2 separate regions of the Homo sapiens genome follow, and region 1 is linked to region 2. The links come from fine-mapping of genetic effects on gene expression. Tissue or cell type: vagina. Region 2 holds a variant in brackets; the other region holds the start of a gene. All regions are shown on one strand. Distances are from middle to middle.

Region 1 (8,108 bases), 750 kb before region 2:
TCAAATTAGATCTATGTAGAATAGCATATTTCATAGAACCTCTATGGAAGTAGGGTAGAACTAGAAAATGTGAGAAGGAAATGTCACAGGAATTAGCTTTAAGATAATAAATCAAAGTCTCATATACATTCATGGCCCTATCAGGATTGACTGTCCTACTTTGCAGGTTCCTCAGCATTGTGCTCCACTAACTTAAGTGAGGATAGAGCAGACATACTGCTGTCTACCATCAGCTACTCAGAAAAAAGTGAATGCCTCAGAAGAGTCATAATCAGAAGTTTTTTTTTATTTTTATTTTTTTTTGAGATGGAGTCTCACTCTGTCACCGAAGCTGGAGTGCAGTGGCATGATTGCAGCTCAATGCAATCTCTGCTTCCTGAGTTCAAGCAATTCTTCTGTCTCATCCTCCCGAGTAGCTGGGACTACAGGCACACACCACCACGCCTGGTTAATTTTTGTATTTTTAGTAGAGACGGGGTTTCACCATATTGGGCAGGCTGGTCTCGAACTCCTGAGCTCGTGATCCACCTGCCTCGGCCTCCCAAAGTGCTGGGATTACAGGCGTAAGCCACCATGCCCAGCCATAATCAGAAGTTACTACTCAACCGTAATGTCCAAATGATAATAAATTCATCCAAGAACCAAATACAAGTTCAAAATTTTGAAAGCCTGTTATTTTCAAAACAGAATATAACATACAATATTTTATTTTATTTTTAAAACTAAAACATCTGATAAAGCACTTAATAGTATACTAAAATGTACTTAATTTACTGTGATTTGCACCAATGGAAGCTTGCTCTGTGGAGCACTTAAATGCACAGATGACTCCAAATCCACAATATTTTCTTTTTTTGCCCACATATTTATCTTCATAATTACTTTTGATAAATCTAATAGTTTTTCTTCTCCAATAGAAAGAGGAAGTAGCACCTTATACATAAATGTTTGCAAATATAATATATATCTAATGATCATATAACAAGACTTTTAAATCCTTGAATGAAGGAACAAAATCTCTGAATCCTTCTTTACTCCCTACATTTTATGCATCATGTAGCATAGGGCACAGAACAGGTGTGGTCAAAGAATATTCATTAACAGAGAATTAAGATTTGATGCTCATGTATTAAAAGAAGTAAGAGTATTTTTAGTCTTCTGGTAGTTCTCTTATATTACAGTAAAACAATAATTCTAGGTTTTGCTAAGGAATGTACTTTTGGAACTAACATATTACTTTCGTATATTAATTTGGTAATATTAACTAGTCTAACAAACATATCTCCACATTGTAATGGAGTAACACAATAAATGAGTAAAGCCTAATGCCTATTTTCTTAGTAACTGGGTAGTATTCCTCTATGTGGTAATTAAGGGACTCTCGTCTTTGTCTCTGGGGTTCTGCCTGCCCTGGGTCTTAGAAGTCTCTGCATTCCGCTAAGGATGGGAGCCCATAGACTAGAAAATGTATATCTACTGCTTAACTGCCTTGTCCTGAGAGTGACCAACCATCTTAGTCCACAGTCCATTGATCAGAACTGGTCACATGGACCTTCTTCGAGGAAAGAAGGGTCAGGCTAGAAATGGGAATCCCTCTCTGGGCAGACACTTCCCAGAGTGAATTATACTAAGGGAGGGAAAACACATTTTTTTGGTAGACAAAAAGTTGTCTTTTTTCAAGCTTTTCCCCCCTCCTATTTCTTGATAAGCAGGACATTGCCAAAGTCAGCATCTGGGAACTGAAGTAACCCCTTCAAAATGTAAATTCCAAATATAAAGTATTCTCATGCAAGCAGTAATATAATTATGGACTGCTAGGGCAGTCTAACACGGAGGTTCCCAACCCCTGGGCCACAGAACAGTACCAGTCTGTGGCCTATTAGGAACTGGACTGTACAGCAGGAGATCTGCAGCAGAGTGAGCAAACATTACTGCCTGAGCTCTACCTCCTGTCAGATCAGCAGTGGCATTAGATTCCCATAGGAGTGCAAACCTTACTGTGAACCGTGCATGCAAGGGATCTAGCTTGCCCGCTCCTTATGAGAATCTAATGCTTGACGATCTGAGGTGGAACAGTTTTATCCTGAAACCACCCCCAACCACCATCCATGGGAAAATTGTCTTCCGCGAAACCAGTCCCTGGTGCCAAAAAGGTTGGGGATCTCTGGACAGGACAGAAAAAGAATGGCAGTAGGAGAGGGTAGGACATCTGAAACAGTAACCGAATAAAAAAGATGATCTGTCTGTCTACTTCAGGAGGTCAGGTGTATGAACACAAGTAGTCCCTAGTTAATATGCTGCCGTCCTGTTTCCTTAGAGCAGGATCCAATTTTGTTTAAGAGGTGTCAGTGTTGCAGCAGTTATGGAATCATACACAGGCATTAAAAGTTCATGTTGATAATGTGTTGGGAAGTGATTGTGAGTCATAACTTTTTCTTCCCATACATACCTTAGCTAGGAGGTGTCCTAGACTTGTAGCGGACTAAAGGGTGTGCCTGAAAGGTGTGCCTTTATTTCCTATCTGTATCATGTAATTTTATATGGTGCTGACATTTTAAGCCTTCTGATCTTGGTTCAAAGATGTTTATCCTATACCTAGTAAAAAGTTATTCCAAATAAAGGTGGGAACTTCATTTTTTTCTAATATGTAGGAGAGAATGTCTTGGCCTTGGAAATGAGCATCCCTGGACATGGTTTCCTGGTCTTTCTGAAGCAGGCCCTCTTCACCCACAGGTCTTGGCATCGCTCCCTGTGTGCCATCTGGCCAGGGACCAACTTCCCAAATCTGCCTTAGCAACTAGCTCTGCCCGTGCTCAGGAGGCTGTTTCCAACAACCCCTTCCTGAGATTACAGTGACCTCTCAGAGCTCATAATTTTATGTTCTCTGAAAATTTTAGGCTTTATTGAGGGCAAGGACAATTTTCAAATACACTCCCTCCCCACCTAATTACCCACCACAAAGTCTGGCATATAAATAAAAGGAGTACAGAAAATATCTTTATTGAATGAATTGTCTAATTGCCACCCAGTATCCTGGGGTTGGAAATTGGGCAGCAGAATCTCAGTGCCAGTGGCAGCCTCCCTATCTTGGTGGGACACACCCTGCGTCTGCTCCTTTTGCTAGGCCTCCACAGAGGTATCTAGTGTGTGTTTCTATTCCGTGCAGTCCACATCAAAGTCACGCTGCAGCACAATCAGTCTCTTACTCAAAATTGATTTTCAAGTTTGAGCTTTAATCTAATCCTTGTCTCCAAAACATTTCTTTTGGCTTCATCTCCCAGCTCCCTAAACTTTTTTTTTTGTTTTTGTTTTCTTTGTGTGTGTGTGTGTGTGTGTGTGTGTGTGTGTGTATTTTAAACCTTTTATTGGACCCGTGGTCCAATTGAGGAAATAGGAAAAACCTGATACTGAAGGACTTTGGAAATAAAACAGGAAACATGAAGGGTGAGAAATTTATTCAGATTTCTTCATAATTCCCCCCAAAAGCTCCAACCACGTTGCCAGTCCTTGGGTGCTGCAGTTGGTCGGGGAGAGGGGCTGTGTGGAGGTCACCTTCTGGTAGACGGAGACCCGCTTTTCAGACTCTGTGGCGCAGCAGGCGGGCCAGGAACATTTGGGCCACTATTGCTCTTAGCCCTGCCGCGCCTGACTTTCTCTCCTCTACTTTCCTTCCGACCGTAGGGACAAGTGTGGGGATCCGCTTTGGGCTCCAAGGCCCTGCCCGCACTGGCAGCACCAAGCGGGTGTAGAATGACTGGAAGGAGCAGGGAAGGAAGATGGGTGTCAACTGTCCCGGCCAGTGGCTGCGTGCATGTGTGTGTGAACAGGGAAAAGGCCACCCTCTCCCATGTTTCTCCCGTCTCCTCGGTTCTCCTCGGAGACCCGCAGGGCTGCCCGAGGTAGCTCCGAGTTGCCCTGGGTCGCTGGGGCTTGGTCCGCATCCTCCTCCGCTAGTCCGCTCCCGCGTTCCACAGCGCCCCGCCGCTCGGTGTGCACGCCTGGGTGGGACACAGTAACAGCCCCTAAGCCGCCAACGCAAAAGCAAAAACAACCGTACACCGCATCGCAGTCGTAGCTCTTCTCCGCAAGGTAAGTTGTTTATTCGTCGCCGTTTTGGCGATCCTCCCTGGACAGCTGCGGCAGCGACGGCAGCTGCGCCGCGGGCGCCGAGCTCCCAGCCTCTTCCTTCCTCCGCCCTCTCAGGGCTGCCTCTCACCCCCACCCTCTTCCCTCCTATCCCCGCCTTCTCTCTTCTTGCCCTCTTGTGGGCCACGCACACACCCGGAGACACCCTCTGCACTTGGCTACTCACACTGCGGCTTAACCCAGCCGACAAGGCACGCTTGCCAAAGAGGCGCGGGTGTGTGTGTGCGGGGTCCGCGTTCGGAGGCCAAAGGAGGGTGGCGTGGTAGAGCCCTTCTCCTCCTGGCCGCGACGCCTTGCCCACTCTCCTGCCCTAATCTCGGCCTGCCAGCAAAAGTGACACCTGAGCAGGGACTGGTCCGTAGAGGCGGCAGGCCCGCTGGTCCGGCAGCTGGAAGAAAACAGAGCAAGGGGCGGGGACAATGAGGAGGAGCGGGAGGCGGGACAAGCGGGGAGGCCGCCACCTGGCACTGAGTGATGCGCCCTCTAGCCAATGAACGCGAGGAACTCCGGCGTCGGGGCGGGAGGTCGGGGGCGGGCTCAGTGGGGAGGAGGAGGCTGCAGGCGCGCAAGAGGCGGGGGCCGGGAGGAGGAAGGGGAGGAGGCGGAGGCGGGCGCGGTGTTGGCGGCGGCGGCGGCGGCGGAGGGGGGTAGGTTGTGCCCGGGACTGTGTCTGCCGAGCTCGGCGGCTGTGCCTTGGTGAGTGGAGGAGCGGCGCGGGGAGGCAGAGGCGAGCGCGGGCGATCGCGGCGGCGGGACGTCTCCGGCGGCCGCGGCACCAGCGGCGGCGCTCTGTGTGGAGAAGCAGGGGCAGCGGCAGCAGCAACAGCGGCAGCGGCAGCAGCAGCGGCAGCAGCGGCGGCCGCCTCTCCGCCGCCGGGGACGCCAAGGTGCGGCTGGTGGCACTGACATCGGCGGCCCTGCCTCTCCTCCCTCGCCCCCGGCCTTCCCCATGTGATCGGTCTTAATCCTGGCCGTGTGTGCGCGCGTGGGGCTCCATTCCGCGGTGCTGGGTCTCCGTGCCGGGGTGGGTGCTCGTGTGTGCGCTTCTCCTCCCCATCCCCCTTCCCCCAAGAATAAAAGAAGAACCGGGAGGCGTGCTCAGAAAATAAATAAATAACCACCACACACGCGCAGCCCGGAGCGAGTCGGCGGGGCTGGCGGCAGCGGCGGAGGAGGAGTGAAGGCGGCGGCGGCGGAGGAGGGACGCGCGGAAAAGGCAGCAACTTTAAAGCCAGCTCAGAGCCTAGACCTCCAGCCGAGCGGTTTGCAGCGCGGCGGCGGCGGCGGCGGCGGCGGCGTTGAGTGTCTGGCCCGCCGGTCCGGTCGGGGTGTGCAGTCGGACGGACGAGCAGCGCGTCGCTGTCCTCCGGCAGCTGGAGATGTCCGAGCCCAAGGCAATTGATCCCAAGTTGTCGACGACCGACAGGGTGGTGAAAGGTAAGCGGAGCGCCGCGGTGGCCTGGGTGCACCGTGTGCCGCAGGCGCCAGGGCAGCTTGCCTCGCCTCGCCTTTCCTCCCCTCCCCCGCCCCAGGTTCTCCTCTGTCCGCTCCAGCCGCGGACCTTCTAGGATATTGTGCAACCCGCGAACCCCGCGAACCCCCCGCCCCCGCGGCGCCCTTCCCCCACGCGTCCCACCCAGCCTCACTTGGGGCATTTTTATTGACGGGGGCGTCAGTTGGCAAATGGCTGAGCCGCGGGGAGGTGGCGGCGGGGGTGGCGGTGGTGGGAGGGGGCGCCCGGGGGGTGGTTGCTGGTAGGGTGTAGCTGCTGTGACAGAAATAGGAAGTGGGTGGCTCTGCTCACAGGCTTGCATGGGATCGGGTTTATGGTTTTCTTCTGCAGAGGGAGGGGTGATTGATGGCTTTTTAAAAATTAATACGGCATTTTTATGTGGCCGTGGCTTTCCACCGACTGCCTCACTTGGGCAGGGTTGTCTTGGAGCTCCATTGCAGCAATTCCCTCCGCGCCCCCCTCCCCCTCCCCCTCCCCCTGGAAGGGCCTGCACAGGACTCGCGAGAGAGCGGGAGAGCGTGGGGGGAGCCCGGCGCTTCCTTCCGCGCGGGGCGGGGGCGGGGGCGGTCGCTGGCTGGAGGGTGGCCGCGGGGGGCGCGGGAGGCGGGGAACGACCTGAGAGCACCAGCCGTTGCCGCCCCGGGATTTCCCCCGCACGCCCCGGGGAGAGACACGAAAACCACTTCTCCAGCCTCTCTTGCCATCCCCGGCTGTCCCCCGCCGACCTGTCATTGCTCTTAAAGGGTTCTCCACTCGTGCACACCTCCCAAGTGATAACCTCATTCCGCCTGCTTCCTCCGTGCCCTGGCATCCTTTTTGTAACGGGCTGTTGGATTCCTATTATTGCCTCCTCTTCGCCGCCTACGGGATGATAAACTCCTGGCAAGGATGCACTGAGGTTGCTGGCAAAGAGAAACTGGGATGTGCGGAGTGAGGAAGGGGACAGGCTGTGGTTGATCACTCTGTCGCACGGGAATCTATCGGCCTCCTTGTATTCCTAGGTGTAGTGGGGGAGGAACCATCCTATGAATCCTGGAAGGCTGAGGCAACAGAGCAGAACCACTTGGATTAAGTAGTATCTCACATTCCTGGGGGTCAGGACACCAAGCAAAGCAGAGATGGGCATGAGCTGTGCGGGGAGCGGGCCTCTGAAATTGGAAACAGCACTGGCTGGTGTAATGTGTGTGTGTTGTGTGTAGAACAGAGATGGTATCTAATGTGGCCAGAGCATGCAACTAGAGTGCAAGGCAATCAAGTCGTTTGCACCATGAGCACTTAAAAGTGAAGTAACCCAGCAGCCCAAAGACCATGATACACAAGTCCCTCTGGGGTTTCAGAAATGATTCTTTCTCCTTAGAGGTTTACTCAGTTTTTAAAGTAATTTTTCTGTGTGAGTGGTGGTGGTGATGGGGGAAATTACGTTCCCTTTTTTCAGAAAGAACAAAATATCTTCTTTTGTTTTGGTTTTACTGGAATCATTCCTGCTTCAGCTTCGGTGCAGGATTCATATACCCATGAAAATAATGAGGAAATAGCTCTGCAAAAATGATTCGAAATAGGGCTGCAGAGAGATGCACAGCTATTTTATTTTTCCTGCAGGCATGGATTTTCATGGAAACAGTCCATTCACATTTATTTGAGAGAGCTGTGTTTTGCATGAAAGGCTTCTGTTGACATTTTCAAAAATTGAGACCCTTTGCAGAAATATCAGAGAATGACAATTATCTCCTTAATGTGTGAAGTTTAGATGTAGCTCCAATCTAGGTTAAGATCAAAACAATGTAAAGCTTATAATTCAAATGATACTAGTGAACGTGTTGGCAATTAAAAAAACACTTGTGCACACATAAGGTCACATTCCCTGTTTTAAATCATAGGATGTGGATTCTTAATGTAGGTGTAAAGTCATCAGGTGAACATGTAAAAATAAATGTTTATACTTTCTGGCTTAGTTTCTCTACTGCTTAAAATGGAAGAGCCCACTCAACCATTCCAAGGCTACTTTGCCTTGCTTTTTTTCAATACTGTACCATTATAAATGACTTTTCATTTTAGGTACACACACTCACCCATAATTTAAAAAATTTTATTCACATACTATGTGGATAGTAGACTCAAAATAGGAAAAGTTAATTTTGCATTTGTTTTGATAGAGATCCTGATGTGAGATGTGAAATGTGAAATTTTGTTTATAGAAGTTTTGTTGATGAATCCTGATTTTAAGGTGGATACACTGTTATTGTTTATCCTGTTTTCTTGTAGAATATTATTGGCATGAAAGGCATTATACAAGGTTGGATTCAACCTTTTGTCATACATAAGATTTTTATTATTAGTTATTTGAGATAATCTATTTTGATTATTAGCTTTCTGTGAAATAATATTTCCCCTTGAGTATGTATACACGTACTGAATGAATGGAAAGTACGCGTATGCTGGATGTGAAACA
Region 2 (8,108 bases):
CCAGATAACAAAGGGCTTTGCATTTTACTCTAAGAAATGTAGACATATCCTGAATGCTACAAAGATGGGAAAATGAAAAATCTTTAGCAGAGAAGTGGCACTGTAGCTGATCTTATCTGAGTTGTATTTCTTCCTTAGGACAATCTGTTTTCAAAGAACTACACTCCTTGTTTACTACCTGATTCTGCCCACCCTCAACCCTTCTGCGATTTGATTATGTGTTTCCTGTTTGGAGTTGAATAACTTATCTCTATTAAAGATTTGGGTTTCAGGCTAAGATACTATGTTTTAGGCAAGCTAAAAGATGAAAGCTATGGGGGTGGTTATGTGCCTGGAAAAGGAGAGGAAGTCAGGATGCATAGAGACAATGAATCAAATGGCAGAACTGCCGCTAAGAAAATGAAGCCTCTGGCTGGGCGTGGTGGCTCACGCCTGTAATCCTAGCACTTTGGGAGGCCAACGTGGGCAGATCACCTGAGGTTGGGAGTTCGAGACCAGCCTGACCAACATGGAGAAACCGGGTCTCTACTAAAAATACAAAATTAGCTGGGTGTGGTGATGCATGCCTGTGATCCTAGCTACTTGGGAGGCTGAGGCAGGAGAATTGCTTGAACCTGGGAGGCGGAGGTTGCGGTGAGCTGAGATCGTGCCATTGCACTCCAGCCTGGGCAACGAGAGTGAAACTCCATCTCAAAAAAGAAAAGAAAAGGAAAGAAAAGAAAAGGAAGCCTGTGTTATGACCAGGTTATGAAAAACCTAGAAAGCTCCCCACTCCCCGCCCCCACCAAAAAAAAAAAAGCTGTATCTTAATACATAGAAAATATCAAGGATGAAGGTAGGGTTTGGGCTGAAAAACAAAACTGTGAGCCAAATTCAACAAATTCAAAGTATAGATATAGCCAGCAGATGGTTGAGTAGAAATAACTAAGGTGAGATAGAGATTGGTAGAGCCAAGTATCAGCCTTAAAAAATAGTTTTTAGTAGAATTTAGGAGCATACATTGTATATAGGCAGTAATGAAAGAAAAGGTAATTATGAGATGTAAGAAAATATGAGAAAGTAAGGGGCTGAAAAATGTGCTATGTTCATGGGAAGAGCCAGGGTTTTTAAGGTTTAGTGTTGCAGAAAATAATTGTAAAAATAAAATAAATTATGAAAATATATAAAATAATTTGACCTGAAACGAGGTTTCAGAAAGCATGGTGTAAATGTTTGAGGAGACGGTAAAAACAAAAATTGGGTTAGAGAGAGGAGTTATATTGCATTAAATTTGTCTTTAGGTGGATCTCACCTTTGTGTAATAAGGAAAAGAGCAAGTATCAAGGTTGCTTATAAACTACATTTAAGTTGACAGCAAAGCATAAGTAGCTACGAAGTATTTATAGGCAAGTGTTGACCTAGAGCATGTTTTAGTTTTAATGTTGTAAAACTTGTCTCACAATGTATGAAAAGCTATTGAGGCAATAAGAATTCAGCCTTCTTATGAGCAGGTCTATTAAGGAAATGAATAAATGAATATTATATCTCTAATAGTCTTGAAGAAGATGGACCATTTTAGAGCAGTCTTGATTCTGGTGAGAAAACTGACCTCCAATCATTGGGTAGAAATGCTCCAGTGGAAATCTTACTGCTGCTGTTGATAAGCTGAGATGTGCTTTGAATCATTAGCTTTCCCCTTTGAAGAATAAATTGAATCAGGGGACTCACACAAGTAACCATCATTATATTCCTTCCAGAATGGTGGATTCTGTCTAACTAAATATTAACATCACTGCTGTTCAAAAGCTCTTGTGTAAATGCATGGTAAGATTTTTGATGGTAAAAGAAAATGGTAATTGACATTTACTGAACCCTTTCTGTAATGGAATTGTGCAACGTGTTTACGACACAATCTTATTCATTTCTCCTATCAAAACTATGGAGGCAGTTGTGGTTATGCCCATTTTATTAGTTAAGAAGTAGAGGACTAAAAGACTATGTGATTTGTCCATGGTCAGCCTGTTGAGTCAGAACTGAAGAGTTTTCACAGTTCATGACTTTTTGCAAACTGTCAGTGAGTCAATGAGAGAAGATGTGTTTTCAGCCCATGTGCAATTATATATATTTGATAATTTAGGGTTCATTTTCCAGAAGCTATCCTATATTTTTCCAGACATATACCTGAAATTTTATTAAGCTACCACCTCCATGTATGTAAGGAATATGGCCTGGATTATAAGATACTATTCTATGGTATAAATGGTCAGAATTTCCTATAGATGGGGTTCACCATGTTAAAAGTCAGCTCTTTCCCCAAATTTAAATAATAAATAATAAAAATATGTTAAAATCCTTATACTTACTAACATATTATATTATTTCACTTTGAAAAAAATTTAGAGGTTTTATGAAATAGATTGTAGGTGAAATAAATTGTCTTTCTTACCAATTTTTACCTGTGCACCATCTCCTTTTAATTAAATTATGGTTTCAAACAGAACACTGTAATGTCAATCTAAAATTTTTCTTTTTTTTTTTTTTTTTTTTGAGATGGGGTCTCGCTGTCTCCCAGGCTGGAGTGCAGTGGCGCTATCTCGGCTCACTGCAGGCTCCGCCCCTCAGGGTTCACGCCATTCTCCTGCCTCAGCCTCCCGCGTAGCTGGGATTACCGGCGCCCGCCACCTTGCCCGGCTAATTTTTTGTATTTTTAGTAGAGACGGGGTTTCACCGTGTTAGCCAGGATGGTCTCGATCTCCTGACCTCGTGATCCACCCGCCTCGGCCTCCCAAAGTGCTGGAATTACAGGCGTGAGCCACTGCGCCTGGCCTAAAATTTTTCTTAAGGTCAAAATTTCATCTAGGACACTAAAATGCCTCAAGCTTCAACTTGACTCTTCTGTCAATTTGATATCAAAAGGCGTGGAGATAGTTCTCAATTTAAAATTTCACTTTCTTTTTAATGCAAAATATTTAATCTTTTTCATCATAAGAAGAAAAGTAAATGTGCTAATTGGGTTTCTTAGAATTACTTTCAGCTTTTAAATTCTCATATCTTTCCCTACTTTTTAGAGGAGAGGGGAAAAAGTTGCAATATATCTATGCATAATGCTCAAAAGAGTAGTCTTTTCCCTATTAAGAGTAGATTTTCCAGGCAGTTTCTAGGATTGTTCAAATATCTATGATGTTTTCTGTCTACCTTCAACTGTTTTTTGTTGTTGTTGTTGCTGTCTACTAGTCTGAAGTGATTTTACTTCGTGATTTCTGACTGTGTTCATTTTTATAGAAGTAAGTCGCATTTTTCTCAGACTATTGCAAGACCTAACTTTTAAAAATATTGAAGCAAAACAATTTCAAAATAGTTCTTCAATAACATAATTTGTCTATAATGCCTAATGAATGCTTTACAAAACCATGATTCTAAACTTAAA[C/G]TCTTAGAGGCTGTTTTAAAAATTACCTAAAATTATTTTCTTTTACCAACATGGAGTTTCAGTTCTCATATGTTGGTTTTAAGTGTATCCTTTGTATTCCAAGGGTTTTCCACATATCTCCTGGAGACAATGGACATTTTTTGGTAACCTGTGTTGAGTCTTTTGTTCTTTTCTCAATTAAATGCAATATTAGGATGTTATACACGAGATAATCTTATTTGTTTTCTTGACTTGAACCAACTTAAAAAATATAAATCTAAATGATTCCCTTATTACACTATGAATCTATTCTCCTTTTTCTTGATCTGTTCTCTTTTCCTCTACTTTTGACTCCTACATTTTTAAACATCTTGCACATTCATATTCTTTAAAATAGATTAGATAAATGATAAATTGCATAAATCATTTCCTTCTTATAGAGATATTTGAGAATAATGTAACCACAGCTATTATTTAAATTGTAACATTTCCTTAATGCACATATAAAGTGGTGGGGGCATATTCCTGTCAAATACAAGAAGATTTTTATTCATCTGCACAGAGAAATAATCTCGAAGAGGGAGGGCATGAAAAATCTATAGCAGCATAGAATTCTATAGCTTCCCCTGAACCCCCCAAATTGAACAAAAATTATGTAATGGAATATACATGCTTGAATATTTGTTCCTGTGGTCATTTAATAGTCACTGCAAAGTCATTTTAATGCCCTCTGGAGATTTAGCCCACTTCTACAACCTTCAATCAATAAAAAAAGATAAATAAAAGGACCCCAAGTTTCATCAGCTTTGCTATTGCCTTACTCAGACTGCGCCAGCCTTCATGTAGCTTACTTACAGTCCAATAGGGGAGACAGATAAGTAAATAGTCTCTATCTTGTTATTGGTCTTAGTTTGTTAGACTGCTGTAACAAAATGCCTTGATAATTTATAAACAATAGAAATGGATCGTTTGCAGTTCTAGAGGCTGGGAAGTACAAGATCAAGGTACGAGTAGATTCCAGTGTCTAGTAAGCATGTGTTCCTCATAGATGATGCCATCTGTGTGTGCTGACATGGCAGAAGGGGGAAAACAGGCTTCCTCGGGCCTCTTTTATGAGGGGACTAATCCCATTCATGGAGTGTGTGTGTTGGGGGTCCACTTTCATGACCTAATCACTTCCCAAAGGCCTCACCTTTTAATACCATTGCATTAGAAATTAGGTGTCAACACATGAATTTGGAAAGGACACAAACATTTAGACCAGAGCATTGTTTATTCCCAATTTCTTGATTGTTTCCCTTCTAGTATCCCAGCTCCAAGAGGCTAGGTTCTTGCCTTATTCTCTAATCTTTCCAGAGGCTAAGGCATTGTCTATCAGACCTGCCTAAATGTCTTTTTCTATACATGCCATTCTGCTGATGGAACACGTCCCTGAGGTCTTGCTCTGTTTAACTCTTTAGATCTTTGCCTGAATCCAATGCTTCCTGAAAATGACATTCTGGCTATCCAGACCCACCTCACTACCTGTGCTGTCCTTTAACATCAGACTGGTCATCCAGGCCTCTTCATCCTTTCTCTGATTATATTGTCTTTTTCACAGGATATTTTTAAAATGGTGCAAGAATGGCTTTGAAATTTGTTGCAACATATGTTGCTCATCATTTGACCAATGAGTAGTTGTTTCTTCTAAGCAAGAGAATTAAAGAAAGATGATACATAAAGTAAAAATTATAAACTCCAAATGGAATTGCTGTAAGAGCAAAATGAAGTAGTTCACAAAAAGGTGCTACAATGTAGCACCTTTGCAAAATATAATAGTTTTACATTATTTTTGTTAACATTTAAATTTTTCATAATGATAACATAGTAAGGGTAAACATTGGCAAGTATAGAGAAATGAAATAAAACCTAAATATGTAAATGGTTACAATGTGAATTTAACTTGAGAATGAACAATTTGGAAAAAGAATAAAATATAACATAGTTGTCACTTATCAAAAATTATTTTATAAAGTTAATTGAACAGGGACTCGAACAGATATTTATACACCTATGTTCATAGAAGCATCATTCATAACAGCCAAAAGATGGAAGCAATGCAAGTGTCCATAGGTGGATAAAAAGATAAAAAATATGGTACAAACTTGCAATGAAATATTATTTATCCTTAAAGAGGAGGGAAATTCTGACACATGCTACAACATGAATATACCTTGAAGATACTATGCTAAGTGAAATAAGCCAGTCACTATAGGGCAAATATCTGATTCCACTTATAGGAGGTACCTAGAATAGCCAAATTTATAAAGACAGAAAATAGAATGGTGGTTGCCGTGGGCCAGTGGGAAGAAATGGAGAGTTATTTTTGAATGAATACAGAGTTTCAGTTTGGAAAAGTGAAAAAGCTCTGGTGTGATGGTGGCACAATAATATGAATGGATTTAATGCAACTGAACTATAGGCTTAAAAATGATTAAAATGCCAAGAAAATGATGGCAAGCCATAGACTGGGAGGAAATATTTGCAAAAGATATGTAATAAAAGATTTTTGTCCAAAACATACAAAGAACTCTGAAAATTTAACAAGAAGAAAATTAATAATGCAAAAAAATGGTAAAGACCTGAACAGACGCCCCACCAAAGAAGATATACAGATGACAAATCAGCATATGAAAAGATGTTCAACATCACATGTCACTAGGGAATTGCAAATTAAAGCAAGAATGAGCTACCACTCCACACCTATTAGAATAGCCCAATCCAAAACACTATTGCGGAGAATGTGGAGGAACAGAAACTCCCATTCACTGCTGGTGGGAATCAAAATGGTACAGCTACTTTGGAAGATGGTTTGGCAGTTTCTTGCGAAACTCCTTGCAAAGTCTTCAAAATGATCCATAGAGAAGAAAAATACATTAAAAATACAGGAAGCAGTATAAGTAGGAAACATTCGGCATGTGATAAAATCTAACATGTATAATTGGAGAGAGAAAATGGAAGAGAGTGAGTTTTTAAAGAAACTCTGACTCAGAATTTCTCAAACTGATGTAACACATCGAATAACATGATCCAAGAAGCTCTCTGTTCCCCTACCTTCCAGTGTATTAAAAAAATTGAAATGAATGCTTTACCTCAAACGAAATGCAATAAATAAGACATCTAAAAGAAAATTTAGGAGATGATATTCTTCACCTTAGAGTTGGCAAAGATGCTTTAGATGGAACACAAAATCCTAACAATTAAAATAATTGGTAAATTGGACTTCATTAATATCAAGTGCTTCTGTTCACTAAAAGTTGCCTTAAAGAGAGTAAAAGACAAGCTGCGCACCAGAAGATATTAGCAATGCATTACTGTAACAATAAACTCATATTCCAAAATTTTAAAATGCCACAAAAACTCCACAAGGCACTCATTGAAAAACAAAACATTGCAATTAAAAATGTTTTAAAGAAACAAAGGACTGGCTGGGCGCAGTGGCTCACGCCTGATAATCCCAGCACTTGGGTTGCATGTGCATAAATGCTAAGTGAACCTTGGGGTAACTCATACCTCAGTGGCACCAGGGCAGTGCCAGAATATGAGATAAAGGTGCATGGCATGATGTGATGTAGGAACTGTTGGAGAATTCATGTGAACAATAGGAGTAACTAGGAGTAATCTGCAAGGCAGGCTATAGGTCTGTAGTGAAGATGGTGGCAGCAAGTGGAAATCTGGCTGCAGGACCATGGAACTGATGTAAACAGCTGCTAATGCTCACTCTGGCCCAAAAGCAAAGCAAGTGCATGAATTTGGGTGTCACATAAACAAAAACTGCCTTTCAGATCCATTCATTCTTCTAATGACATATATCCATGTCTTTCCTAAGGTAAAGATGCTCTCATTTCTCCCTGGGATGTAATGTACAAATCTAATTTATCAACATTTCAACCTTCAAAAAAAGCCTTTAAAAGGGTCAGCAAAGCAAGCTCTGGTACCCACTGTTGCAGTTGGTTCCTGGTCTGTAAGTGATACTCATCATCTTTCTCCACTGTCTCCCTCTTTAGATTTCTTTCATCCTCAGCTAACATTCTTGCTTGGTGGACTGCCAGCCTAGTGGGAAAACCCAGATCTTCATCCCCAAGAGGTCTCAGCCCATAGTTGTCTTGCCCTTGTCAAGCTGTTATTGTTACAACTGCCCATTTATAGTTTTCAACTGATGTAGGAGTCCCAAGAGACAACACAGTTAATCCCTTGAATTCTAGATACTCATCCCTAAGTCCAATGTGTAGCAACCACCCTAGCTTCTTCATGGTGATTGGGCTTGATTACTCCCACTAGTATAGTAACTCCTGTCTTTGCCTTAAAAAAGGCCAGATGGTGGCTGCAACCTCTAATTTGGTGTAACTTATTTTGCATTGGCAAAAGTTTTCTTTCAAGTAAGGTGGCTCGGTAGATAATTGTGCATTCCAGAAGTTAGTATCCCAACCCCACAGGAGTTGTATAAAATAATTTCTATAAGAATGTATTACTGCCCTTTTAAAAGTGAAAAGACACAAAATTGATCTGTTACCAAATGGCTAACTGGACTCCCTGAGGAGTGCAACCACAGTGCTCAATCTTGGTCTCTGCTGCCAGCAGGTTGAGCATTCAGCAGGAGTAAGGTTAGCTCAGCCTTGGTAAGGGAAGGCCCATCTTGTCAGGTTCATGCACAAGTTATAATCCTGTCTCACATTGTTTCAAG

Direction of the effects. Positions count from the first base shown, and alleles are read on the strand shown. Sizes are in standard deviations (SD) of each study's normalised expression.
For the expression in vagina of the gene that starts at base 4,796 in region 1, G is the low allele of the variant in region 2 and C is the other (large effect, 1.5 SD a copy in GTEx).

Evidence for each region. PIP is the estimated chance that this variant, and not a neighbour inherited with it, causes the effect.
Region 1: PPP3CA starts here. The variant in region 2 is fine-mapped to the expression of PPP3CA in vagina (GTEx, PIP 0.90).

The regions. Positions count from the first base shown.
Region 1 is chr4:101,344,214-101,352,321 of GRCh38, reverse strand. It overlaps PPP3CA (protein phosphatase 3 catalytic subunit alpha), which reads left to right and starts at 4,796. Exons shown (of 14, transcript NM_000944.5): 1 at 4,796-5,583. The coding sequence starts at 5,526. PPP3CA-DT (PPP3CA divergent transcript) reads right to left here and starts at 4,545. Exons shown (of 2, transcript NR_033874.1): 1 at 4,313-4,545; 2 at 3,439-3,998. RefSeq lists silencers at 4,561-5,170, 5,641-6,000, 6,021-6,410.
Region 2 is chr4:100,595,441-100,603,548 of GRCh38, reverse strand. No RefSeq gene overlaps it. Among named protein-coding and RNA genes, the nearest start is that of LINC01216, 76 kb to the left of the region's middle. The variant C/G (reference allele first, on the strand shown) is at 3,407.